Linked DNA regions of Homo sapiens. The protein of the gene in region 1 interacts with the protein of each later gene in a pairwise test. Each region holds a gene or a part of one and is shown in the gene's direction. Other genes may lie near its edges. The genes, in order: ANKRD33, BFSP2, HPCAL4 and KLHL42.

Region 1 (7,994 bases):
AAATCAGTGTAGCATTGGCACAGGAATGCCCTCATAAGATGCTATAAGATAACTGAAACATAGCATAAAACATAAAAGAGAACTCAACGTTTACATGTGATAAAAACGACACCACAAATCAAGGGAGAGAGAATTGTTTAATAGATGGAGTTATCTTGCTAAATGGAGAAAAAAATAAGGTTGGATCCTTTATTAGTCTGTTCAGGTTGCTTTAACAAAATACACAGGCTGGATGGGTTACACAACAGAAATGTATTTTCTCACAGTTCTGGAAGCTAGAAATCCAAAATCAAGGTGTCAGCAGGATTGGTCTCCAGAGAGGCCTCTCTCCTTGGCTTGTAGATGGTACCTTCTGACTGTGTCCTCACGTGTCCTTTTCTTGTGCAGGCACAGAGAGAGAGAGTTCTGGTGTCTCTTCCTCTTCTTATAAGGACAACAGTTCTATTGGATTAGGGCCCTATCCTGCCCTAATAACTTCATTTAACCTTAATTACCTCCTTAAAGGCCCTGTCTCCAAACACAGTCATTTTTGGTGTCAGGGCTTCAATATATGAATTGGGGTTGGTTGAGGGAGACACAATTTAGTCTATAACAGATTATTTCTTCAATATTATAAAAGTGAATTCCAGATGAATTAAAGACTAAATATTAAAAATAAAACTGCAAGATTAATAAAAGAAATGAAGATCTTTGTGATCTTGGAGTAGAAAATTCTTAGTAAACAAGACCCTGAACACAAAGTATAAGGAGAAATTCTGGTGAATTTAACCATATCAAAATTCAGGAGCTATTTCAATGAAGGTCACCATAGATAAAGCTAACAGAAGGGTTTATATAGTACAGTTGCCTCATCTATAACCCATCTGACAATGGCTTTATTATCTAGAATATTAAAAGAATTCCTGAAAAATCAATAAGAAAAGGATAGGAAAATTCAATAGAATACTGAGCAAAGGCCATGAACAGTCAATTCACAGGAGGGAAAACAAGATTGGCCAGCAGGGCATGTGGAGAGATGCTCACCTTGTTGATAATCAGAAAAATTCAATGTAAAATAGCAATATCGCTTTATAGTTCTATCAGATTGACAAACATTAGAAGGCTGAATAATGACATGTGTTGTCTAAGACGTAGGGAGACTCTTATGCACTGCTGGTAGGCACACATGGTGAAACAGAGTGCAACCTGAGTATCCACTCAGTAAGTGTGTATGTGCCCTGTGATCTAGTGATCTCAGAGACCCCGATGGGTCCACAACTAGATACGTATGAGGGTGTTCACTTTGGCATTATTTATAGTGACAGGAAGTTGGAGGCAACCTAAGCATCTATTGCAGGAAGAAGGGATAGGCTAAATGAGGTGGATGCACACTATGGAATTCTATAAGCAGGAAGAAAGAGGGAAGAAAGAGGGAAGAAAGAAAGAAAAAAAGTGGTGCACTCTACATCTTTCATCAAGACAGTGTTAATTATAGTGAACCCCAAGTTTCTCTTCAAAGAATCAGTATGTCAGTATGTTCAGCTCTCTTATTCTTTGATTATCCATTTTAAAGTTTAGCTTCCTGGTTCTCTTCCGTTCCCTTGCTCCTGGTTTTAGTAAACAACTTTCCCTCTAGTCCTAATCAGTAGTTCACATCTGTTCTCTGGTCAGCTGCTCCATCCTGACTCATCCCGTTTATCTGCTTTGACCTGAGTCATCCCAGTCACCTGCTTTGACCTGAGTCACCCTGGTCACCTGCTCTGATCTAAGTCACCTTTAGTTCCCTGTTCCTAACTGTCCTTCCCGCCAAACTACCCACCCCGCCACTCTAACTCATATCCCTGCTCTCTTTAAAATAGCCAATCGGAATTAGCTTAGGCTGTGCGGTCCAACCCTAGCCAATAGGGGAACGCCACAGCAGTAGGGCCGTGTGTCAGGAATAAGAACTCCTTCTCCTCTCCTGTCCAGGTGTGCTCTTGCCATTGTTCCATTCACGACTCGCACCCTTCTATAGAAGTAAAAATTGCCATGCTGAGAAAATTAAATTTATGTTCGAGTGCTATTTCCTTGCAGCATTGAAAATTTATTTACAACAACAGCATGAACTTTTTTCCTAGAATCCCTATCCATCAGACTTCTGTTTGCATTTCATTGGCCAAAACTGCATTACATGATAACACCTAACTGAAAGGTAACTAGAGAGAAGGGGAGTTATGAACAGGGATTGTGTTAGATAATCAGAGATGTCTGGTTTATCATCTGATAGATTTTTTTCTAACTGCTGTATAGAATTCCATAGGGTGCATCTATCCCATTTTGCTGTGATGGCTAGAGGTTTAGCAGCCATCTTGTGCCAAGGAGGAAAAGTCAAGAGAATCCCAGAGAAGGCCCTGACAAGTTTCTTAACCAACATCAACAGTTTCCTATTCCTGAACTTTTTATCATGTATTAAAAACAAGCACCTCTTTGTTTAAGCTACATGTGTCAGAGTTCAATTGCAGACAACAGAAATAAATCTGGACCTGGTGCAGTGGCTCACGCCTATAATCCCGGCACTTTAGGGGGCCGAGGTGGGCTGATCAACTGAGGTCAGGAGTTCAAGACCTGCCTGACCAACATGGAGAAACCCCGTCTCTACTAAAAATACAAAATTAGCCGGGGTGGTGGCACATACTTGTAATCCCAGCTACTGGGGAGGCTGAGGCAGGAGAATCACTTGAACCCGTGAAGCGGAGGTTGTGGTGAGCCGAGATCGCGCCATTGCACTCCAGCCTGGGCAACAAGAGTGAAACTCTGTCTCAAAAAAAAAAAAAAAAGAAAGAAAGAAAGAAAGAAAGAAAGAAATCTGATCAGTTTAAACAGAAAGGGATGGAGAAGCAGGCTTAGGTCCAGGAACAACCCCCAGCTTTGAGAGTCACATGACCTCTGCCTGTGATTGAGAAAACAACAGTCACTACTACAGGAAGCTGATGAATCAGGAAGCTGCTCACCAGAGCCTTGCTGCTGCTGCCATGACCTGTGACAGCAAAACGGATGTCCCATGCTACGTAGCTCTGTTCCAAATTTATATCTTGCACAAGAGCAGGACGCAAACCACAGAGTCATAGCTCAAGGGAATCTGGGAAGGGTTGTTTTAGCTTTCCAACTTCTGCAGCGCAGAAGAAACACTGAAAGCAGTTTTAGATTAATGTTGAGGAGCCCGTCTATTATGGACAACATACCATTCAGCTTTTTGGTTACTAAAAACCAAATGCACATCCAACTGATACACTGCACCTAAAGCAATAAGGATGGAGCTTAAGTGAAAAAGAAAAAACTAACAGAATAAGTTCTATAGCACAATTCATAACATGTTAGTTAAAAACACATACAAGCAGAGCATGGAGGCTCATGCCTGCAATCCCAGCACTGTGGGATGCCAAGACAGGAGGATCACTTGATGCCAGGAGTTTGAGACCAGCCTGGGCAACAAAGTGAGATCCCCATCTCTACATAAAAAAGTTAGACAGGCGCGGTGGCACACACCTGTGTGCCTCCGAGAAGCTCGTAGCTTCTCGGGAGGCTGAGGTGGGAGAATCACTTAAGCCCAGGAGTTTGAGGCTGCAGTAAGCTATGATCATGCCACTCCACTCCAGCCCAGGTGACAGAGTAAGACCCTGTTTCTAAAAAGAAAAAAATAAAATAAAAACACACAAATCAGTACTATCTTTTTCAATGAAATGTACATTTTCAAGGATATACAAGTGCCAGTTGGTAAAGGGTGGAGGAGAATGGGATGTGGGGATTAAGGGTGAAAGAGAGAAACTAAAGAAAGTAAAACAAAACAAGAGAGAGGTCTTGTACAGTCTGATGATGGGAGTGATACCAATGGGGGAATATCATTGGCTCCATTTTCTACATCTGTGGACCAAGACCAATCCATCAAGCTTAATATGTAATATAAATATTAAAGAATATTTTGATAACAATTTATCATTATATTAACAGATCATTTAATTTAAATATTTCATATTTAATTTATCACACTGAAACTAATCTATTAAATTTCATACATCATAATTTCTGGCCAATCCCTCCCTCACTACTGCCTGCCGCACTTTGTGCCCCGACTGCCCACCTGCACTAGACACATAATGTCGGTACTCACAATTTCGTTTGTTTGTTTGTTTTGTTTTTTGAGAAGGAGTTTCGCTCTTGTTGCCTAGGCTGGAGAGCAATGGTGCGATCCCGGCTTACTGCAACCTCTGCCTCCCGGGTTCAAGTGATTCTCCTGCCTCAGCCTCCTGAGTAGCTGGGATTACAGGCGCCCACCACCAAGCCCAGCTAATTTTTGTATTTTTAGTAGAGACAGGGTTTTGCCATGTTAGCCAGGCTGTTCTTGAACTCCTGACCTCAGATAATCCACCCGTCTTGGAATCTCAAAGTGCTGGGATTACAGGCGTGAGCCACCCCGCCTGGCCACAATTTTTTTTTAAAAGGAGGTCTCCCTCTGTTGCCCAGGCTAGAGTTCAGTGGCGCGACATCGGTTCATTGCAGCCTCGACCTCCCGGGCTCAAGCGATCCTCCCACCTCAGCCTCCTGAGTCGCTGGGATAACAGACGTGAGCCACCGGGCCCAGCTCTATACTCATAATTTGACAATTATGTTTTTATTTCCCCAGAACCTCAAAAAATAAGTTCAGGTGACCCCCCTGGAGACCCCACCCCAGGGTCATTCTGAGAGTACCAACCCTATTTAATGAGATACCTGCATTCACTCACCCCCTCTCCCGCAACCACCCCTTCAGCAAGTCGCGCTCCACCCAATTAGGAGGGGCTTTAGGCTGGGCCTAAAAAGTTGGGCCAAGACCCCACGAGGCAGCATCTCCGCCGGCGTCCCCAAGGCTGAGAGTGGGCGCGTCCGTCAGGAGGAGTCGTCTTTGTGAGCCCGCCCCGGCGGGGAGGAGCTGCCCGGCTCAGGCCCCGCCCACCCGGAGGATCTTGGGGCTGGTCTGAGTCCGCTCCTGAGACGTGACCACCCGCCCCGCATGGGGCCCCAGTCCCAGCTGCTTGATCCGGCTCAGCCCCGAGGTGTTTGCAGCAGCTCTTTATGAAAGTCCAGCCATCTGTTACCTGCGTTGCTTCCTGGGGAGGGATAGTCCACCTGGAGGCATTCGGAGACCCAGTGATTGTGCTCCGCGGAGCCTGGGCTGTGCCCCGCGTTGACTGCCTCATAGATACCCTACGAACCCCAAGTAAGAAAAAACGACGACCCTCTCTCCGTGAGTCTCACTGGGGTGCTGACCTAGAGTGAACCCTGCTTGCTTAGGGCTCCTGACCCAGCGCTTGTCCTTTCTCAGGGTGGATGGGGCGAGACCCCTGCTGGGATAAATGTTTTCCCTGGGGCAAGGGCTGTGCACTTCGCAGCTGCTGGGTCCCCTCCCTAGGATCCAGGGAGACACTCACTACTCCTCTCCATTCTGTGTTTTAGATGCCAGCTGCATGAGAAAAGGGACTCACCTTCTGGTTCCCTGCCTGGAAGAGGAAGAGCTGGCATTGCACAGGAGACGGCTGGACATGTCTGAGGCACTGCCCTGCCCGGGCAAGGAGACCCCCACCCCAGGCTGCAGGCTGGGGGCCCTGTATTGGGCCTGTGTCCACAATGATCCCACCCAGCTCCAAGCCATACTGGATGGTGGGGTCTCCCCAGAGGAGGCCACCCAGGTGGACAGCAATGGGAGGGTGAGATGTCCTGGCTTCCCAGAACAGCTGGGGGCATCTTTGCATCCCCACCACACCGTCCTGGCCTGGCTCCCTGAGAGGGGTTCAGGGGCAATACCTCCTGCAGTCCTAAGGAGGAAGGGAATGGTTAAGGGCGGGTCTTCACGGGGTTTGGGGCAGGCTCTGGGACAGATATGGGTTTAGAGGGTGCAAGGGGCCCTGGAGTGGCCCAGGGGGAAAGCAGGGGATCTGAGCTGCCCCTCCCTCAGACAGGCCTCATGGTCGCATGCTACCACGGCTTCCAGAGTGTTGTGGCCCTGCTCAGCCACTGTCCTTTCCTTGATGTGAACCAGCAGGACAAAGGAGGGGACACGGCCCTCATGTTGGCTGCCCAAGCAGGTGTGAGGCTGCTGCACCCCACTTCCGACAGCCCCCTTTTGATGCAGACAGGGCCTCAGCCCCACCCTTGTTGCACGGTGTTCTACACCAGACTCTGTCATGCTGGGTGGAGGGCGGTTTGGGAGCTTCATCACCCCCTTTCCTGGGGACCAAGCTTACCCTTGCTGCCCTGCAGGCCACGTGCCTCTAGTGAGTCTCCTGCTCAACTACTATGTGGGCCTGGACCTGGAACGCCGGGACCAGCGGGGGCTCACGGCGTTAATGAAGGCTGCCATGCGGAACCGCTGTGAGTGCGTGGCCACCCTCCTCATGGCAGGTGTGCGGGGCCTGGACCGGGGTGTGTGGCCTCCAGTCCCTCCTCCAAGCCTTCCCACCAGACACTAAGTCAGCTGTGATTATTTGCAGAAAGGAGAGAGGTGGAGATGGGGGATCAATCTAGTTCACCTTCCTGGAGGGGGGGGCACATGATTTGGGCTTCGTACAATCAACCAAGTCCTGCTATTGATAGCTCAGACATTGTGTGTGGAGGTCCCAGGAAGGAAAGTGTGGGAGGGGAACCTAGCCCAGCTGGAAAATCTAACACGAAAAAAGGCTGGCATCTGGAACCAGCCCCTGTTCCTAGCTGAGTGGCTTCCCTCTTTGGGCCTCACCAGTATTGTGAGGGTGTTAGCTTTCCCTGGGACTACCTCCAACTCTGACAAGCCAGGCTTCCAGGGGATCCAGGGAAGTGTCGTTGAGGCCTGTGGCTCTGTGGGGTCGTTCAGGGGGAGGTGCGGTGAAGTCCACATTGTCCATGGAGTTGTTTGGGGGCCCTTCTTCCCCGCAGTGGGGCTGCCCTCTGCTGGTCACTCTGGGGGACCCCTGCCTCCATTTTTCCCTTCCCCACACACCCCACTGGGTTTGGAGTGAAAAAGGAGTGAATGAAAAAGGAGGGCGCTCTACACCCTTTCTTTTGTCTTAGAGTGACTGCTCCTCCCACAACCCCAAGATGGGAGAGGGAGATGGTGAGAAGAGAAGAACCAGGAGAGGGAACCAGCCGATCATCCCCACCCACCTGCCCCAGAGGGTGCAGCTCAGGCCTCTGCCTGTCCTGGGCAGCCTGCACCGCTGCTCTGCTCAGCTCCTTGGATTGAGGAGATCCCTATTCTGCCCTAGGTGGAGCCCCACAATAGGTCTCTCTGAAGTCTTTTCCCCTCTCTGGACCTAAGTGTCTTAATCTCTCTTAAACAGGAGGTTGCAACACTGGCCTCCCTGATTCCACCTTCAACAGGATGGGACTCTATGGCTTCGAATGTAACCCACATCAGTCTTGCTCCTAAAGAATCTGCCCTTCCACAAATCACCAACCCCTATCCCGCCCCATGTCACCCCCTGTGCTCCTTCCCAGGTGCTGACCTGACAGCAGTGGACCCTGTTCGGGGCAAGACGGCCCTGGAATGGGCAGTGCTGACCGACAGCTTCGACACCGTGTGGAGGATTCGGCAGCTGCTGAGGCGGCCCCAAGTGGAGCAGCTTAGCCAGCACTACAAGCCCGAGTGGCCGGCCTTGTCCGGGCTCGTGGCCCAGGCCCAGGCCCAGGCCCAGGTTGCCCCTTCACTCCTAGAACGGCTGCAGGCTACCTTGAGCCTCCCCTTTGCCCCGTCTCCTCAGGAGGGGGGTGTTCTGGACCACCTTGTGACTGCCACAACCAGCCTGGCCAGTCCCTTCGTCACCACTGCCTGCCACACTCTGTGCCCTGACCATCCACCTTCGCTGGGCACCCGAAGCAAGTCCGTGCCAGAGCTGTTAGGTACTGCCCCGCCCCCTCCCCTGGTTCCCCAGTCCCCGCCAGGGAGTCCCCAGAGGTCCCCGTGGGTCTTCGTCCCCTACCAGAGCCCTCAGGGCATATTGAGCAAGTGCCTTCAGTGGCTACAACCC
Region 2 (7,200 bases), on another chromosome or scaffold:
CTCCCCAGCCAATGGCGACTATAGAGACACTGGGATGGTCCTTGTTAACCCCTTCTGTCAAGAAACACTGTTTGTGGGAAACGATCAAGTATCTGAGATCTAACTACAGCAGGCATCACTTTGCCATTCCGTATTTTTCGTCTCTAAATTATAAATATACAAATACATATATTATAAATATAACCTTTGTGTAACCCTGACTTAATGAGAAACATTTTCAGCTTTTTTTCCTATGAATTGTCAACATCTTTTTTACAAGTGTGGTTTAAAAAAAAAAAAAACTTTACAGAATGATCTGTGGCTTTATAAAATAAAGGTATTTCTAAGCAAAGCAGTTGCATTGATTGCTTCTCTTAATAACTATTCTTGAGCACCTGGGGATCCCAGGAACCCTGGTCAGGTGAGGTAAGAGACTGACCTCCTGTAGAAGCTGAATGTTACAGTGCAAGCGCACGATTCTTTGAGTGATTCTTAAAGCTCTGGTTCCTCTTGATTTGGTGTGACCCCATTTCCTCCCTTCTCATACGCACACCTGTAAAGGGAACTGGACCGCCTCAGGGGAAGACGGCAGACTCATGCACAGAGAAGGAAAAGGGAACATCTCATCACCTCTGAGGATGAGTACCCTGGAGCCTTATGACGGCACCATTGGATGTCATGTTTAATTCCATCCAAGTTGTGGATGGCAGGCAGGAGCATGGAGCCCTCAGGAATCCATGGAGGACATCAAGGCATCCCAAGGCCATATTCCCCTAACATTACTTCCACTGCTAACAACAGGACTGCCTTTCCCTGGTGGGAAAATGCTCCCTTTATGCCCATTCCTGTATCCCCTCCAACACCCACATCTGCATTAAACACCCGTGCCTTTCTCTTGGAGAGGGTTTAGATGCAGATCCCGGCCCTGGAGCTTTAAAATGCTTGCCCTTCCTTCTTCAAGGATCAAATGTTTATTGGGGTTCAGCTTTGTTTTCTCAAAAGGCCATGGTATCGTGCCCCTGAGGAACATGTTTATCTAAGAAGCTTTGAGGTAGTAGAGCGATAATTTTTGAAACCTTCCTCCTGCAATCTTTAAAAAAGAAAAAAAAGATTGCCCAAACAAATCATTTGGGAGAAGACATCATTATACTCCTACTTGGCACTGCAAACCTGCTCGCAGCACCAGCCGGTGGACTTGCCATCCAGCTCTCAGCTTCCACTGCTCCCCTTGTTCCCGGCCGGCTGGCTGCCTCCCCGTGCTGTGTCCAGCACGGCCAACAACGTCAGACCCTCAGAGACGCCCAAGGGGCTTCCAGAGGTGGCCGCTTCTCTATTTTTTCCTGATTGTGGCTGAGAGAGATGATTACTGCTTTGACACTTCCTTTCTCTAAAAGAAAAATAGTTTGATAGTATATTTTGAATATAGATGCTCTTATAGTCAGATTGGGAATTGAACTTGAATATTGGGTCATATGTTTGTGTTGTTGCTGTAGTCTATCATGACTTTTTTCTTTCTGCATTTTCCTTAAAAAAAAAAAAAAGATGGCCTTCAAAAGTGTGTTCTCAATGTTGTATGAACCTCCTTCACATGAGTTCGGTTGTTGTCTCTCTTCAAAGACTCTTCAACCCACAAAGAAGCAACTAAATGTTTCTCTAAGTTTAATTTTCTAGCGTGTTGTTGTCTTACCTTTTTAACCTTACCATAATATTTCTGTTAACTGTTACATTTAATATACCAATGTGTGTAAGTATACAGAGAAAAATCTGTTTGTAAAGTAAAATTTATATATAATATATGTAATCAAAGATACATATGTTATATATACATATGTGGATGTATGACTTATTTTTCCTTATCCACAGATTTCAGCTACCATGTATATATAAATAAACTTATTTTATTAGCCAGAGGATTCTGTTGCTAATACATTTTGCATTCTTTTCAAGATAAGCTCTAAGTCTTCCTTAAGCAGTACCAACACCACTTTATATCCATCTGTATTTTTTAATCTGATTTAACAGTAAGTTGAGTTTTATGTATGTGATGAGCTAATAGGATTAGCAGTTTATCATTTGATAAAATAAATCTTTTTGAACATGTTTGCAGTTTCTCCAAAACAGACTCATCTTTCATCAGGTCTTTGGAGACAGTGGTGTCAAAGTACATCCCCCCCTCTTTCTCCCTGTCTCCAGGGCTGAGTGGATTTATATAGTAAATATCTTTGGTCCGGAGAAGTCTGAAGTTAACCTGGCCATTGAGTGTTACCATTCTGTAGAGAATAACAATGCCTAAACATGACACATTTGTGCACAACTTAATCAGTAGCCTGAACTTTTCATTCAGCCTTGGACAATACATCTTGGAATTCACAATAATGCAGATCCTCAGAACCAAGTCAGTGTCATCCGTATAGGAGGCTGTTACTGTAACACAGGCTCGCATGCCCCTTCTGGGTGCATCAGGGGTGGTGTTCACAGCATTAATGCTACATCTGAATAAACAAGGACACTACTGGCCTTTACTTAATCCAATTGGTTCTTTCATCTGTTCATCAAATAGCCAACACTGATATTTATAAAATACCTCCCAGGCCATCTCAGAGAGACAAAGTGGAAGACAATAAAGAAAGGAAGGGTTGGAGTGTCCTGGTCAGTAGGAAGGAAGTGCACACAGGGTCCTCTAGTAGGCGACCAGGTTTTTTACCTCTACCTGCGTGACCTCAGGTAGGTACTCTGCTCTCTGGGTGGTGGGCAACAGGGAGGCTCCTAAGTAAGTCAGTGGCCCAGAGTTTGGAAGAGGTTGTCTGCCCCCAGCTCTGCTACTTTCTGGACATAGAACCTTGGGCAAGTCATTGCAGCTCTCGGGGTCCTCCTCACATAAGAGGACAGTGGCCAACTGTAGGACATGTCATTTTAGAGCTGTGAGGTACACAGCCCATATGGCAGTACCTGTCAACCCTGGACCTCCTTCCTCCTGAGGTTGAGTTGAGAATTCCACGAAATAAACCATAGGATTCATGCACACACCAGGCTGGATCTGCTACTCACTAGAGATTGACTCCCTTCTCCTTCTCTCACCTGAGGTACATTCCTACATTACAGCATCTGGAAAAGTATCCAGCTCTGGGGTTTGGTGACCTGGTTTCTCCAGGGTAAAACTTATGTACAGAGGTTTTTAGGTCCATGTTGTCATCCTGTAACTGGGGGAACCTTTCTGATCCTAGAGAAGTGATTGAGGTGTGACCCTTGGTGGCTTAGTGGATGCCAAGGTCAATAATTAAAACCCAGGGGTGTCATCATATCCTAACTTGGGGCACCCTTGGAGAGGCTTACCAGAAAACACCCTCGTTGTTGTTTTTATTTCTCAGTTTTCCAACAGATGGAGAAGCAGAGGTGTAGGGAATGGCCGGAACATGTGTGGGATCTGAATTTGCCCAAGGTCCTTATCTGGTGCATCAGAGAGTTAAAGGCCCAAGCCAATGTTCAGACAGTGAGGTCCAGAGGGAGGAAGCATCCTGGCCAACAGCAAGCAGCTGATGAACAGCAGAGCATTAGAGGACAGAGATGAGGAGGAAAGGAGAGAGGTGAGGGAAGGACCTGAAGCTGCTGCCAGGACTGAGAGAGGAAACCATAGGCAAGTCTTTTCTCTTGGGTCCCTGGAGCTGCCTCCTGCCATTTTTCATCCTCTATTGCCTGTGTGGACATGTGTTCACATTCACATGTGCCAGCACACATAGGGATGTAGAAAGCCCTGAAATAGCTAGATTGAGTCCTAGCTTGTAATCTGAGGTCTGGGGCAAGTGATCAGTACACTTGTCATCTGAGGTCCTTGAGCCTCAGTTTACTCATCTGTAAAATGGGGTTGCTTGATGCCTGCCTTGCCCACTTAGGTAGTAAAATGCACAAACCCAAATGGTCTACCTCCACAGCCTGCACTGATCCAGCCTCCCCCACCACCAGCAGAATAATCTGGGAGGTTGGGCACATGACCCTGCATCAAAGAATGCATGAGTGCCTCTCTGCACACAGCCCTGGGCAGTGCCCATTTCTCTTTCAGCTCAGTGAATGATGGAAACTCATGGAAGACAGCAGACAAAGCAGCCCCAGGGATAGGGGAGATTCCAGAGAGGCCCGTGACCAGGCCACAGGGATGCTGGGGCTGTAAACCAAAAGCCACTGGACTCTGTAAACCCACTGGGCACCACAGAGGCAGAAGGGGTGATGAGTGAGAGGCGAGTGGTAGTGGACTTGCCCACCAGTGCCAGCTCCAGCATGCCCCTCCAGAGGCGCAGGGCGTCCTTCAGGGGGCCACGGTCATCATCCTCCCTGGAGAGCCCCCCAGCCTCCAGGACCAATGCCATGAGTGGCCTTGTCCGAGCACCCGGGGTCTATGTAGGAACAGCACCCAGTGGGTGCATAGGTGGCTTGGGTGCCCGTGTGACCCGCCGGGCCCTCGGCATCAGCAGTGTCTTCCTTCAGGGCCTGCGGAGCTCAGGCCTGGCCACCGTGCCGGCTCCAGGTTTGGAGAGGGACCATGGTGCTGTTGAGGACCTAGGGGGCTGCCTGGTGGAATATATGGCCAAAGTGCACGCCCTTGAGCAAGTCAGTCAGGAGCTGGAAACACAACTGCGGATGCACCTGGAGAGCAAAGCCACACGCTCGGGAAACTGGGGTGCCCTACGGGCTTCCTGGGCCAGCAGCTGCCAGCAGGTAAGTGTCCAGGCTGTGCCAAGGGCTTTGCAGAGGGCTGGGAGGGGCTGCTGAAGGCAGCGGGTAGGGTTGTGAGTAGGCTGAGGCCAGAGAAACTGACCATAATCCCCTACACTTTCACACTTAAAATGGTAATGATAACAACAATGCTACCTTTTACCGAGGTTTACTAGGAGCCCACGCTAGCCCCCATACGTGCACTACCCACTGTCTTCTTTAAACTTCAAAGAAATGCTATGCAGTGGATCATTCACTGATTGCATTTTTCAGATGAGAAACTGAGGCATGTAATTTGCCCAAGACTTCAAAGCTAGTAGAGGGATGGAGATGAGATTTGAACCTGAATTTTTGTGCCTCCAAAGTTGCATTTGCCCCATTACCCTGGGGCTGCCTCAGTCACCTTTACTGTTGAGAAGGGATTTTTACAGCTATTATCCAATCAAATACCATTGGATGGATGAGGTGTTAAGAACAATGAATAAATGGAGGTGTGTTCCTGTATCCACCTACAACCACGCTGTTCAATAGAAATATGAACTACATTGGTAATTGACAAGTTTCTATTACCCACAGTAAAACACGTAAAAAGAAGCAGGTGAAGTTAATATTATAGCTTATTTAACTCTATATGTCCAGAATGTTATTTCAACATGTAATCAATACAAAATATATTAATGAGGTAATTTACATTCAAGTAGAGCTTTCTGCGTGATGGAAATATTAATATCTTATATCTGCACTGTCCAATCTGGCAGCCACTAGCCATATATGGCTATCAAGCACTTGAAATGTGGCTAATGAGACTGAGGAATTGCATTTTTATTTTATCTAATTTTCATTAATTTAAATGTAAACAGCCACAGGTAGCTAATGGCTATCTTATTGGACAGGGAAGGATGCAGAGGTTTCATCTTTCTCCCTTGCTTGGTCAGCCCTGCTTTTCCCACTCTCCAGGGTGATTTCTGCGGAGTCTGGAGCACATCCATCATGTCTGGCCTGCAGCCTGTAGTTCTAATGCTGGGACTCCAGCCAGCATTACACCTCTCAGCTGGTCTCTCTGTGGATAGCTGGCTTCACCTCTCCTCCTCCTCTTTCTCTCCAGATGCTGGCCTTGGGATCCCTCTGAGCAAAATCAGTCTCTAACCCACCAGGGACTGCCAACTCAGACCCTTGGCCCCCTGGAGTCCAGTATGCAGCCTCCCAAGAGGAGGTCACAAAATTTTATTTGTGTATAGCTGGGGGAAGCTAAGCAGTTGCACACAGGGACTCCCCATTTGCCCCTCCTGCCTCCCACTTCATCCCAGGATGCTTCTCCTGCACTGCTGTCAGTGCCCACTGACAGCACAGAGTGCATGATGAACAGCACCATCCTCTCAGGCTCTCCCCCTGGTGCTGCTGTTCTGCTTGCATCCATCTGGGCTGCAAGGGAGAGCCATCTTAGAACAGTCCAGGGCCTTAACGCCTGTCAAATCTAAGAGGCAGCCATTCCTCCAGGATTCTTCACAACTGTCCTTATTCCAAATATTGTGCCATAACAACCACCAGAACATCCCTAGATACTCCAATATGTCAGCATCTGCTGGACAATCGCTTGCAATCAGATGCCACACAGACTTGTCAGGAGAAATCAGGTATCCCAATGGCTAGGTTAAAAAGTAGGGCCACAAAACTTAGTTTATACTCAATAGATACTGACTTGTTCTGGCTCCAGATAGCTACAAGAGCCTTTGCAACTTACTAACTTCTCTGGGCCTCAGTTTCATTATCTACAAAATGGGTATAACAATGCTTACATATTCCAGCAAATCTGTAGACAAATAAGAGCCTGGCTCCTGCTTACAGGTAGAGTACAGACTAGGAAGCTCTAAAATCCTGTGAGAGCACCACAGCCACACACCAAGACATGCGACCTCTGTAGTTGAGGGTCAGGATCCCACATGGGCTCACTTTCCTCTTAAGTGACTATAAATGAGGGCCTGGGTATGAATAAAGTTCTCTTTTTCTTCTTTTTTAAAAAATCATGGACTTGAAGATAGAGTAAGACCAATTGATAAAATGGAGTTATTATTTCTTTTTTTTTTTTTTTGAGATGGAGTCTCATTCTGTCACCCAGGCTGGAGTGCAGTGGTGCGATCTCAACTCACTGTAACCTCCACCTCCCGGGTTCAAGCAATTCTCCTGCCTCAGCGTCCTGAGTAGCTGGGATTACAGGTGCACGCCACCACGCCCAGCTAATTTTTTTGCATTTTTAATGGAGATGGGGTTTCACCATGTTGGCCAGGCTGGTCTTGATCTCCTGACCTCAGGTGATCCACCCGCCTCTGCCTCCCAGAGTGCTAGGATTACAGGAGTGAGTCACCATGCCCAGCCTGGAGTTACTTTTTCTATATTGCACAGCCCAGCCTTTCAGCCATATTAAACTCTATTCCATCAAGAAGAACAAAAGAAAACTCCATAATTGAGAAATGCTCCTGATTTTTTCAGTGAATCTGGCCTCGTGGAGCTGCAGGA
Region 3 (3,320 bases), on another chromosome or scaffold:
GGGACAGGAAAAAGCAAGGTTTGCAAAGAGTGAAACTAGTGTATATTCCGTATCTTGGTAGTTCGTTTCTGGATTGGGTTTAGTTTCAGAACTGGACTTGTTCCTTCACTGCCACAGAATCAGAAAGAGCTAGAAGAAAAGGCTCACCTGGCCACTGTTTAGGCACCCAGACATAATTTATGGACGAAATGCCTAAAAATGTGCCAGGCATGCTCTGTTTGAGAGGCTTTTTCTAACCCCAAATCTTAGATCTGCCAGGTAGTTCAACATCTTCCAAGTGTGCTGGTTCTGCTTTCCAATGCCTGCTTCCCAATTTTGGATCCATGAGCTATACAGCTGCATGCTTTGACTGCCGGAAAAATTAATCTTGCTTCTTCATCAGGTCTTTCTCCTGTACTTGTGATCAGAAATTACCTTTGACGTGCAGTGACAGTTGATTTCCTCTTGAACTGCCGGTGAAAACAGTCTAGTACACAGGTGCTGTCAGCCCAGGGTGGGAGCAGGAAATGATTGCTGAGCCCGGGGCAGGGGAATTGCATCTGCAGGAAAGAGATGCAGCATGCTCCTCACTCCTGAGTGCCCACCTGTCCTGCTTCTCTGCAGGTGAAAACTCTGGGGGATGCTGATCAATAGAGCTTGGTCCCAAGCTCTACTGGGCCCTTGGAGGTAGCAAGGCCACTGGGTTGCTATCCTCTTGCTGGGGATAGCAACCACTGGTTTGCAACCACTGGGTTGCTATCCTTTTGCTATCCTCTTGCTCATGACCAGCCATATGGTGAGGCTGGGGAGTTCACATCCTCAGGCAGGAACTAGCAGTTGTTTATCCAGCAATGCCTCAAGGATGTTGCATTGCTCCCAGGAACTGGCTATTAGGTATGTCTTGTGCGGTCAGTCAGCATCACAGACACATAGATGCTCACCAGCCTGGCTTAGCTGGGACCTAAATCTTCTGGTGAAAAGCTTTTCACTAAGTGAGGTTCCTTCCCTGCAAATGCTGAATCTAGCCTAATTCGCAACCACACAGAATTTCATGGCTTTCAAAGGCTTGCCATGTGCCCCATCTCATTCTATACTCACATCCCATGGAGGTGAGGATTTTCACTTCTTTTCTCTAGACTTGGAAGCTGAGATTCAGAGAGGAAGCATCCCTTGTGCAAGATCACATAGTCAGGAGGTGACACAGGGCTAAGACTTGAACCAAGGCTCTAAGAGGATTTCTTCTTTTCAGAGTCTCTTCCCTGTCCATTTCTGTGACTAAGCTGTGCAGAGGTTGACAGCAGGGCAAGTTACATTGATATTCATCCTTTATAGGCTTCCTGCTAAAAAGCTTCTGAGATTGTGGTCTTCCAAAAAAAATAGGAGCTTGGTTGAAGTCCCCACATTTTCAAGCACTCAGTGTTCTGCCTCTGGCAGCTGTGCTAACAGCTCAGTGCTGTCCTGGGAGTCCTCTGACTCAGAACCCTCGAAGCATCCTGCATTGTCTTTACCCACCATCATCTTCACTAAGAGAAACATGCCTACCCATGAAGGCGTGTTTGATTACTCCAGGCTTCTGGACACACATACCCATGGGTGATTTTTGCTCCTCAGGCCCAATATTCTCAGACAGCCCAGCAGTGTGAACACACAATGCCAGGCCAGGAACTGGGACCACCATCTTGCTGATGGAAGGAACAACAGGTGGCCCAGGACATGCTCCTGCATACTCCTGGGTGTCCCAGGGACTGTGTGCTCAGGAGCACTGTGGTAGAGCACTGGCCCTGCCTTGAGAAGAGACACAGGTCTCCCGTCCCTGCACCAGCTGAGAGAGACTTGCCGCAAAGCACAAGGCTGGCAGAGATTTATGTATGACTTGCACAGACACAAAAATATACAGACAATCAAAACATTGATATATTCAAACTCTCCTTTAAATTCCAATCTTATTGCAACAACTCTGTGAATTGCAAGGTCCCAGAATCTGCCTTCTCACATACTCTACCCTCATTCATCCTTTTGGGCTAATTGATGAGCATCTTATTTCTTATCTCTAAAAATTATCAGCAAAGGCTACTTCAGATGGCCACTTTAGTCCTTTCAGCTGTAGTCAGGATTATTTAACTTACCTGTATATCAAAAGTGAAGAAAAAGTTAGTTCATAAGTAAAGGCACTAAATCCTTTCCTGACAATGGCAGAGTCTCTAGAGGTAGAAATTTGCCTTGCTGCAGAGAGAGAAGGAATGGCGTGGGATGGGGGAAAGAAAAGAAAGAGAAGAAGCTGGGGTCTCCAGGCAGGGTAGTAAGCTGACACTAAATATTTTTTACACAAAAATGTATTGAAGCAACAAATATTTCCTGAAGATCCACCCTGGGTGAGGCTTTGAGCTGACTTTAGAGATCACTGTGGGGTCAAGAATGTCTTACATGTTTTATTCATCATTCTTGAAAAAAGAAATAATTCAAACCTTGGAATTAAAAAGTCAGAAAAATATGGGATTTTCTTTCTGGAATTTTCGAGGTTTTCTTTTTACCTTTGCCAGAGTGTGGGGGCAGGACTGGGCCTGCCAGGGTGTATAGCCCTTCCTGCTTGGTGGAGGCCAGTCAGGCCCAGGGCCTTCTAAGCAGCAGTAGAAAGGAGGCTTGGGGAAGTGGGGGGTCTGGGTAGCAGGGGAAGGAGGCCAGTTCCAGTGTAGCCCCCTATCCCCTCCAGATGTGCTGCTTCTGGCTGTGCACTCAGTGACTGCCCTCACTGCTCAACCCTGTGCTGTGTGGTGTGTTTCTTTCCCCACTGACAGTGAATAAAAGGTGCAACTGTGCTGAGGGCTCCTGCTCTTCCCTACACTGGGACAGGATTGGGGTGGGGAGAAAGGGACAGAAGAGGCCTGGGGAGGCTCACTCAGTGAAGGGCCAAGGTCCTTGTTCTAGCAAGGACTCTGGGAACATGGCATGAGACTCACTTGAGCTAGTTCAAAGAAATGGGGGAGCAGATTATAAGGGACTCTGAAGATGGAAAATCAAGAATGACTGAACCTCAGGCCAAGCGCAGAGGCTCACACCTGTAATCCCAGTACTTTGGGAGGCCAAGGGGCAGATCACAAGGTCGAGATCGAGACCATCCTGGCCAACATACTAATAATACAAAAATTAGCTGGGCATGGTGGTGCACGCCTATAGTCCCAGCTATTCGGGAGGCTGAGGCAGGAAAATTGCTTGAACCCAGGAGGCTGAGGTTGCAGTGAGCAGCGGAGGTTGCAGTGAGCCGAGATCGCACCACTGCACTCCAGCCTGGTGACAGAGCAAGACTCCATCTCAAAAAAAATAAAAAAATAAAAATAAAAATA
Region 4 (6,880 bases), about 24 Mb from region 1:
TTTTTTTTTCTACTTGCTATTTCAAAAGGGATATTTTCCATAAGTTCTTTAAAAAATGACCTACTTCAGCTGGGTGTGGTGGCTCATACCTGTAATCCCAGCACTCTGGGAGGCTGAGGAGGGAGCATCACTTGCGCCCAGGAGTTCAAGACCAGCCTGGGCAACATGGTGAAACCCCGTCCCCACAGAAAATGTAAGAATTAACCGGGCATAGTGGCGCAGGCCTGTATTCTCAGCTACTTGGGAGGCTGAGGTGGGAGGAGCACTTGAACCTGGGAGGCCTCTGGGAGGAGCACTTGAACCTGGGAGGCTTCATTGAGCCATAATAGTGCCACCACACTCCAGCCTGAATGGCAGAGTGAGACCCTGTCTAAAAAAATAAAAAATAAAAAATAAAAATTACCTAACTCTATTTGACCATTACGCTTCTGTAAAACTGTTTTACAGATAGTACCACAAAACTGGTTTTTATTATTCAATGATCAGTCAATAACAGATCTATAAAATTATACCTCCAGTTATATAAAGCAATATTTTCAGGAAGACTAGGAATAATTTTAGGTCTTTTTAAAATAAAGGAGTTTATATTGCTCTGACTTTGCATTTCTAGCTTAACAGAAAACTTACTGCATAATTTATTAAAATGATTTGATCATTTAAGATGCTCCCAATCCTAAATAATGTTATTATCATATTGGGAGCCAAAAAAACTCACAAGATCAATGCCCAGTATTGTGAGACTAATACCCCAGACTCCCTGTCCAACCTCATCTTACCCTGATAATGTTACTGTGCTTGAATTGCCTTTCTAATGCACATCATTCTTTGAGCATGATTTTTTTGGTCTGTTTTAAAAAGGCAAGAAAATACCAGTCTGAGGCATATCTATGACGGCTGGGAAACAAAAGCATCCATTGGTGAAAGATTCAAGAGACAGAGGAGAGACTGAGAGCCTGTTCTTTGTGGCTGACCCACTGAATCTGGCATTGTTGCCGGTTGAGGCATAGAAAAATCGTAGGTCCAAGTCTCTTTGATACAGGGGACGCATCCCAGCAAAATTCCCCAGCCTGATGCTTAATACTGGATGTTACACTCTACCATCCCAAAGAAGCTGCTAAATGCTTGATCACTCACTCCACCTCCTGCTCCAAAGCTTATCGTGTCTCACTGCACCCTCATAGAGAATGGAAGTGTGAAGGGTTGATGTGAAAATGGAGTTTTATCAGTAACGATTTAAAGGCCAGGTGAAACAAGGTGAAGAGATGAATGTTTTTTATAGAATCCAAGAAAACAACTGAGTAAGTCATAGATCCATTTTTATTTCCTTCATTTTTTTCCAGGGAGGCCAGAATCTACTAGAACATTTTCTATGTCTTTTATTTTTTAGTTCCTTATTCCTAGCATTATTATAAAGAAAATAGGCCAGGCACAGTAGTGCTTTGAGAGACCAAGGCAGCAGGATCACTTGGGGTGGCAGGATCCCTTGGGGCCAGGAGTTTGAGGTCTGTCTTGGGCAAGGTAGCAAGACCCTATCTCTATGGAAAAAAAAAATGCATTTTTTTTTGCTGGGCATGGAGGCTCATGCCTGTAATCCCAGCACTTTGGGAGGCCGAGGTGGGTGGATCACGTGAGGTCGGGAGTTCCAGACCAGCCTGACCAACATGGTGAAACCCCGTCTCTACTAAAAATACAAAATTAGCCGGGTGTGGTGGCTCATGCCTGGAATCCCAGCTACTCCGGAGGCTGAGGCAGGAGAATCACTTGAACCCGGGAGGTGGAGGTTGCAGAAAGCTGAGATCGCAGCATTGCACTCCAGCCTGGGCAACAAGAGGGAAACTCTGTCTCAAAAAAAAAAAAAAATGCATTTTTTTTTCTAAAAAATAAAAAGATAAACCTCCTTTCCCAAGTAATAATAATAAACAAAGTAAAAGATGACAACAACACCTCTCTGTGAAGCAGATAAATTTCGTAGTAAGAACCACAAATGTAACCAAACTATGTTGAAAGGATCTCATGTTTCACCTTTGACTTTCTTTTAGTTCTCTGGTTTTTAACCCTTTCTCCTTCCTAAGGTAAAATGTTAGCATGGTAGGATGTATCTTCTTTAAATAGGGGAAATGTACTTATGAAGAAGATATTATTTAACAATCTGTCATTCAAGAAGAAAGCTGAAGCTTGTAATAATAAAAAAAAAAACCAAACACATATTCTCTCCAAGTTAAGGACTGTTTATCATAGGTGGTTCTCAAATCTTGGTTTGGGGTAAGTTTTCAAGGTTTTCTGTTTTTGTTTTGTAAGATAAGAGTGAACACACCCTCTGCTTCCTCCCAATCCTTCTCCCTTCTCCTACCCAAAGATAATCCAAACAATATATTTCTCCCCCCACCCCCTTCCTGGGATGAATTCATTAGCAAGACAAAAAGTCCTTCCTATTATTATTTGGGGTGGGCCTTCTAATTGCAATGTTCAGTGAGAGAACATAGGAAACAAGTGGTCTCTCTTTTCCGAGACGGCGTCTCGCTCTGTCGCCCAGGCTGGAGTGCAGTGGCGCGATCTCGGCTCACTGCAACCTCCGCCTCCCGGGTTCCAGCAATTCTCCTGCCTCAGCCTCCCGAGTAGCTGGGATCACAGGCGCGTGCCACCACGCCCGGCTAATTTTTGTATTTTTAGTAGAGACGGGGTTTCACCATGTTGGCCATGGTGCTCTCGAACTCCTGACCTCGTGATCTGCCCACCTGGGCTTCCCAAAGTCATGGGATTACAGGCGTGAGCCACCGCGCTCAGCCAAACCGCACGTGTGGTCTCTCTTAATAGTCCTCAGATGATGGGGGCAGGGTAGGTGGAGAAAGGGGGTGACAAGAAAAGCTACTTCTTGCAGACATTTATGAGCCAATTTTGTCAGATCTTTTGCGCCAGGATAACATTCCGTAATGGACTGGACTGAAGTAGAAAAGCAATGGCTCATAGAAAACATGGTTTAAAACCAGAAGCCACGTGATGTAACTTTATTTAGTCGGGCTGCGCTTTCATCTTTCTTTTAATAACTTAGGGAGAATAAGGGGCCCCAGTGGCAAATGCAAGCTCCCCTGCCTCCCAACCCGATTCCTCTGAGAACCTGCTGCCATCTGCCTGGACCTCCTGTAAGATGGCTCCTACGCGACCACGCTACCAGAGAATCAGCTCTACGTGCCACCAACATTGCCACCAACTGTCCATAGATCGCCTGCGTGCCTCAGCCCACTGACACTCGATGCCGGACTGGGCCAGAAGGACGACCCCATATTTGATGCCTTTTTGTCTCCCTGGACCAGAGACTCCATCCTTCCCTTTCCTCCCACGCTCATTTCTTTTTCTTTAGCCCGTGTAAAGCAGCGTGGGAGAGAAAACGAATTTCTTCTCCCTGGGGTACCCCGGAGCATCACTGCAGCCCCCAACAAGCGGCGGAGCCGGCGCGCCCCGGGCGGGCGGAGAGGCTGCGGGGACGCGCGCCCTCCGCCTCCCGCAGCTGCGCGTCCGCAGCCGAGGCGCCCGGGCCCGCAGCTTCCCGGGCCTCCCCGAGAGCCGGATCCAGCCGGCAGGTCAGGCCGGCGGCTGGGGTCCCGCGGGCGGAAGTGAGAAGGGCGGCGGGGGAGGAGGCTGCTGGCTGGGAGCTGGAATTCCCTTCCCGCCTGGCGCCGCCCGGGAGAGCCCGCGCGAGGACGCCCGCCGCGCTCCGCCGGCCCTTTTTTGGCGCTGAGGGAAAGGAGAAGGGCAGGGCCGCCGCCTCGCGGGAGCGGGCCCCGGGAGGAGGGGCCGCCGGAGAGGCCGGGCGAGCGCGGGCGGCCCTCACCTCGCCGCTCCTCCCGGGCCGCCATCCCTCGGCGCCCCGCCCGGAACCGGCGCGCGCGTAGGGGCTGGGAGGCCGGCGCGCAGATCTGGCGGTGAGCGCTGCCGCCCCGGGGCCCCCAGCCATGTCGGCCGAGGAGATGGTGCAGATCCGCCTGGAGGACCGCTGCTACCCGGTGAGCAAGAGGAAGCTCATCGAGCAGAGCGACTACTTCCGCGCCCTCTACCGCTCCGGCATGCGCGAGGCCCTGAGCCAGGAGGCCGGCGGCCCGGAGGTGCAGCAGCTGCGCGGCCTCAGCGCGCCGGGCCTGCGGCTGGTGCTGGACTTCATCAACGCCGGCGGGGCCCGCGAAGGCTGGCTCCTGGGCCCGCGCGGGGAAAAGGGCGGCGGGGTGGACGAGGACGAGGAGATGGATGAGGTGAGCCTGCTGTCCGAGCTGGTGGAGGCGGCCTCCTTCCTGCAGGTCACGTCCCTGCTGCAGCTGCTGCTGTCCCAGGTGCGGCTCAATAACTGCCTGGAGATGTACCGCCTGGCGCAGGTGTACGGGCTGCCCGACCTGCAGGAGGCCTGCCTGCGCTTCATGGTCGTCCACTTCCACGAGGTGCTGTGCAAGCCCCAGTTCCACCTCCTGGGGTCTCCTCCCCAAGCTCCAGGGGATGTCAGCCTGAAGCAGAGGCTGAGGGAGGCCCGGATGACTGGGACTCCTGTCCTCGTGGCCCTCGGGGACTTCCTGGGGGGACCCCTGGCCCCTCACCCCTACCAGGGGGAGCCCCCGTCCATGCTCAGGTACGAGGAGATGACTGAGCGTTGGTTCCCGCTGGCCAACAACCTTCCTCCCGACCTGGTCAATGTCAGGGGCTATGGGTCTGCCATCCTGGACAACTACCTCTTCATAGTGGGCGGGTACAGGATCACTAGCCAGGAGATCTCCGCTGCGCATTCCTACAACCCCAGCACCAACGAGTGGCTCCAGGTGGCCTCCATGAACCAGAAGAGGTAAGCACCCCGGCAGAGTGCTGCTGCCTTCTCATTCATTCACTTGTTCATTAGTTCATTACCCCAGTGTTTACTGAGCCAGTAAATAGGGGAGGGTGTGCTGTGGTGGAAATGACATCTTCAGGAATGTTGTTGGCCTTGGCGCTGGCAAAATTCCCAATGAACTAAGAAATTGCGAAGAGGACGTCCCCAGTGAGGTCAAGAAGTGGAGTGGTTTTTTGGCAGGTATTGTGCCTTTAGGTGAAACTGCTTTCTTTGCCTCTGTTCTTGTGAAAAAAGATGTTGTGGTTTCCTACAAGAATACTTTAAAAGAAAATTGCCCCTTAATTTTTAAAAAATTTGTCTTAGTTTTTAGGATTTGATCCTGATGATAATGATACACTGGACAGTAACCTGTAACACTGACTTTGGGGGATTTTTTTCTGATGTCAGTGACTGTGACAACAGAGTCTTCCACACTGTGATACCCATCATGATCAAGAGATAATCACTGGAAATGTATTAACGTTTGCAATAGGGGTTGCTTTTCTTATTTTTTATCCTCTCTTTTGCTTCCTTCCCTGGACAGCCATCGTCATGACCCACAGCTTGAGCCTGGAAGTGTTCAACTACAGAATTGGAATATTTTCATTTACGCAACCTTCTCCCCCTCCCATCCTGCAAATCTCTCCTGCCTCCAACAAGGGTGACTTGAAGAAAGGAAGAGGAGGAGCTTGAGGAGTGGGATGAGAGGGGAGAAGGGAAAGGAACCAGGGAAGGAATATCAAAACAAGAGCAAAGAGCATATACAGGAAGAGATGGTAGGAAATAAAGATGGTAGCGCCTAGGAGGCCTCAGCGTCATTCAGAAGCAGGGAAAAGAATCAATGTAACTCAAGAAAGGATGAAAATACCCTTTCTTCCCATCCACGTGTTTCCATCTCAATCCTCACAGGGTCCTGGTCCTGAAGTGTGGAGCAAGGAGTTGGGGAGCTCACAGCTGGGCAAAGAAAGTCTTAACAGTAACAGAGAATCCTTTATATATCTGTTTATTTGACTCGAGGGTCCTCCTCGGCCAGGGATTATTTGGGGGAAATAACTGGCTTTATTTCTCCTATAATATGAAATTCATTTTGAAAAGTATGCTTTTTCCCCTGATAATACATAGTTACAGAAAACTGGAAAATGGAAAAGAATGAAGAAGCAAAAAGATGATTATTCCTACCCGCTCTTCCTAGAGGCAGTAACCAGGTTGGCATATTTCCTGCCAGCCCATTTTTAATGCATTATTTACACCATTGAGATGATACCATATTTAAAATTTGGTATCAGAAGTGTTATTTTAAAACAAATTCTATGCACTGTAATTGAAACAACAAAGGAACATTGTGTGGCCATGGGTGGTGGTCTGATTAGGGGTGGGCGGCCCTGAGTTCTCTCACTCCTCTTGCATTCCTCTAGCTACACATCATTTGGTGCTCACCAGGCCATCCTTAGTGCCACAGTTCCTCACACTTCTTTCTTCCCTTCATACATCCTTGGTAGTCTTTGTCTTTTTTTCTAGGAAGGCCCTTTTCATCCCCTTAAAAAAAAAAAAAGCATTCAAGTAATGCATGAATGCATGATTCTTAGAAAAACTGCAAATTACACACAAAACTGTGGAGTAAAAAGAGTAAATGTCTGCCCTCAGGGTACAGAAAAAAAGTGTCAGTGTATCAACAGACTTTTGTTACCTTTAGATATTATAAATGTATAAACATTTATACTGTAAATTATATGTATACTTGTATAAATACAGTTAACCCTTAAACAATGTGGGGGCCAGGGACACCAAACCCTGCACAGTCAAAAATCCCCATATAACTTTTGACTCTCCCAAAAACTTAACTACTGAATAGCCTACTGTTTACCAGATGCCTTACCAATAACATAATCAATTAATACATTTTGTATATGTAGTATATACTTTATTCTAACAATAAAGTATGCTATAGAAAAGAAAATGTTATTAATAAACTAAGGAAGAGAAAATTAAGCGGAAGTGGATCATCCTTATCATCTTGACGCTGAGTAGGCTGAG

The links.
Region 2: the proteins of ANKRD33 (region 1) and BFSP2 interact in binary tests that used the Homo sapiens proteins (3 or more experiments, as listed by UniProt).
Region 3: the proteins of ANKRD33 (region 1) and HPCAL4 interact in binary tests that used the Homo sapiens proteins (3 or more experiments, as listed by UniProt).
Region 4: the proteins of ANKRD33 (region 1) and KLHL42 interact in binary tests that used the Homo sapiens proteins (3 or more experiments, as listed by UniProt).

What each region holds. Positions count from the first base shown.
Region 1 is NC_000012.12:51,883,120-51,891,113, forward strand, and holds the start of ANKRD33 (photoreceptor ankyrin repeat protein), read left to right. Parts: upstream 1-4,983; 5' UTR 4,984-5,067; coding exon 5,068-5,212; coding exon of another isoform or gene 5,213-5,239; intron 5,240-5,448; coding exon 5,449-5,699; intron 5,700-5,947; coding exon 5,948-6,077; intron 6,078-6,252; coding exon 6,253-6,363; coding exon of another isoform or gene 6,364-6,461; exon of another isoform or gene 6,462-7,038; coding exon of another isoform or gene 7,039-7,040; exon of another isoform or gene 7,041-7,307; coding exon of another isoform or gene 7,308-7,370; exon of another isoform or gene 7,371-7,464; coding exon 7,465-7,994. UniProt on the Homo sapiens protein: Acts as a transcriptional repressor for CRX-activated photoreceptor gene regulation.
Region 2 is NC_000003.12:133,395,884-133,403,083, forward strand, and holds the start of BFSP2 (phakinin), read left to right. Parts: upstream 1-4,172; 5' UTR 4,173-4,200; coding exon 4,201-4,689; intron 4,690-7,200. Other genes in the region: TMEM108 (transmembrane protein 108 isoform 1 precursor), read left to right, coding at 1-103.
Region 3 is NC_000001.11:39,678,123-39,681,442, reverse strand, and holds the end of HPCAL4 (hippocalcin-like protein 4), read left to right. Parts: 3' UTR 1-2,795; downstream 2,796-3,320. UniProt on the Homo sapiens protein: May be involved in the calcium-dependent regulation of rhodopsin phosphorylation.
Region 4 is NC_000012.12:27,776,381-27,783,260, forward strand, and holds the start of KLHL42 (kelch-like protein 42), read left to right. Parts: upstream 1-3,852; 5' UTR 3,853-3,950; coding exon 3,951-4,822; intron 4,823-6,880. UniProt on the Homo sapiens protein: Substrate-specific adapter of a BCR (BTB-CUL3-RBX1) E3 ubiquitin-protein ligase complex required for mitotic progression and cytokinesis. The BCR(KLHL42) E3 ubiquitin ligase complex mediates the ubiquitination and subsequent degradation of KATNA1.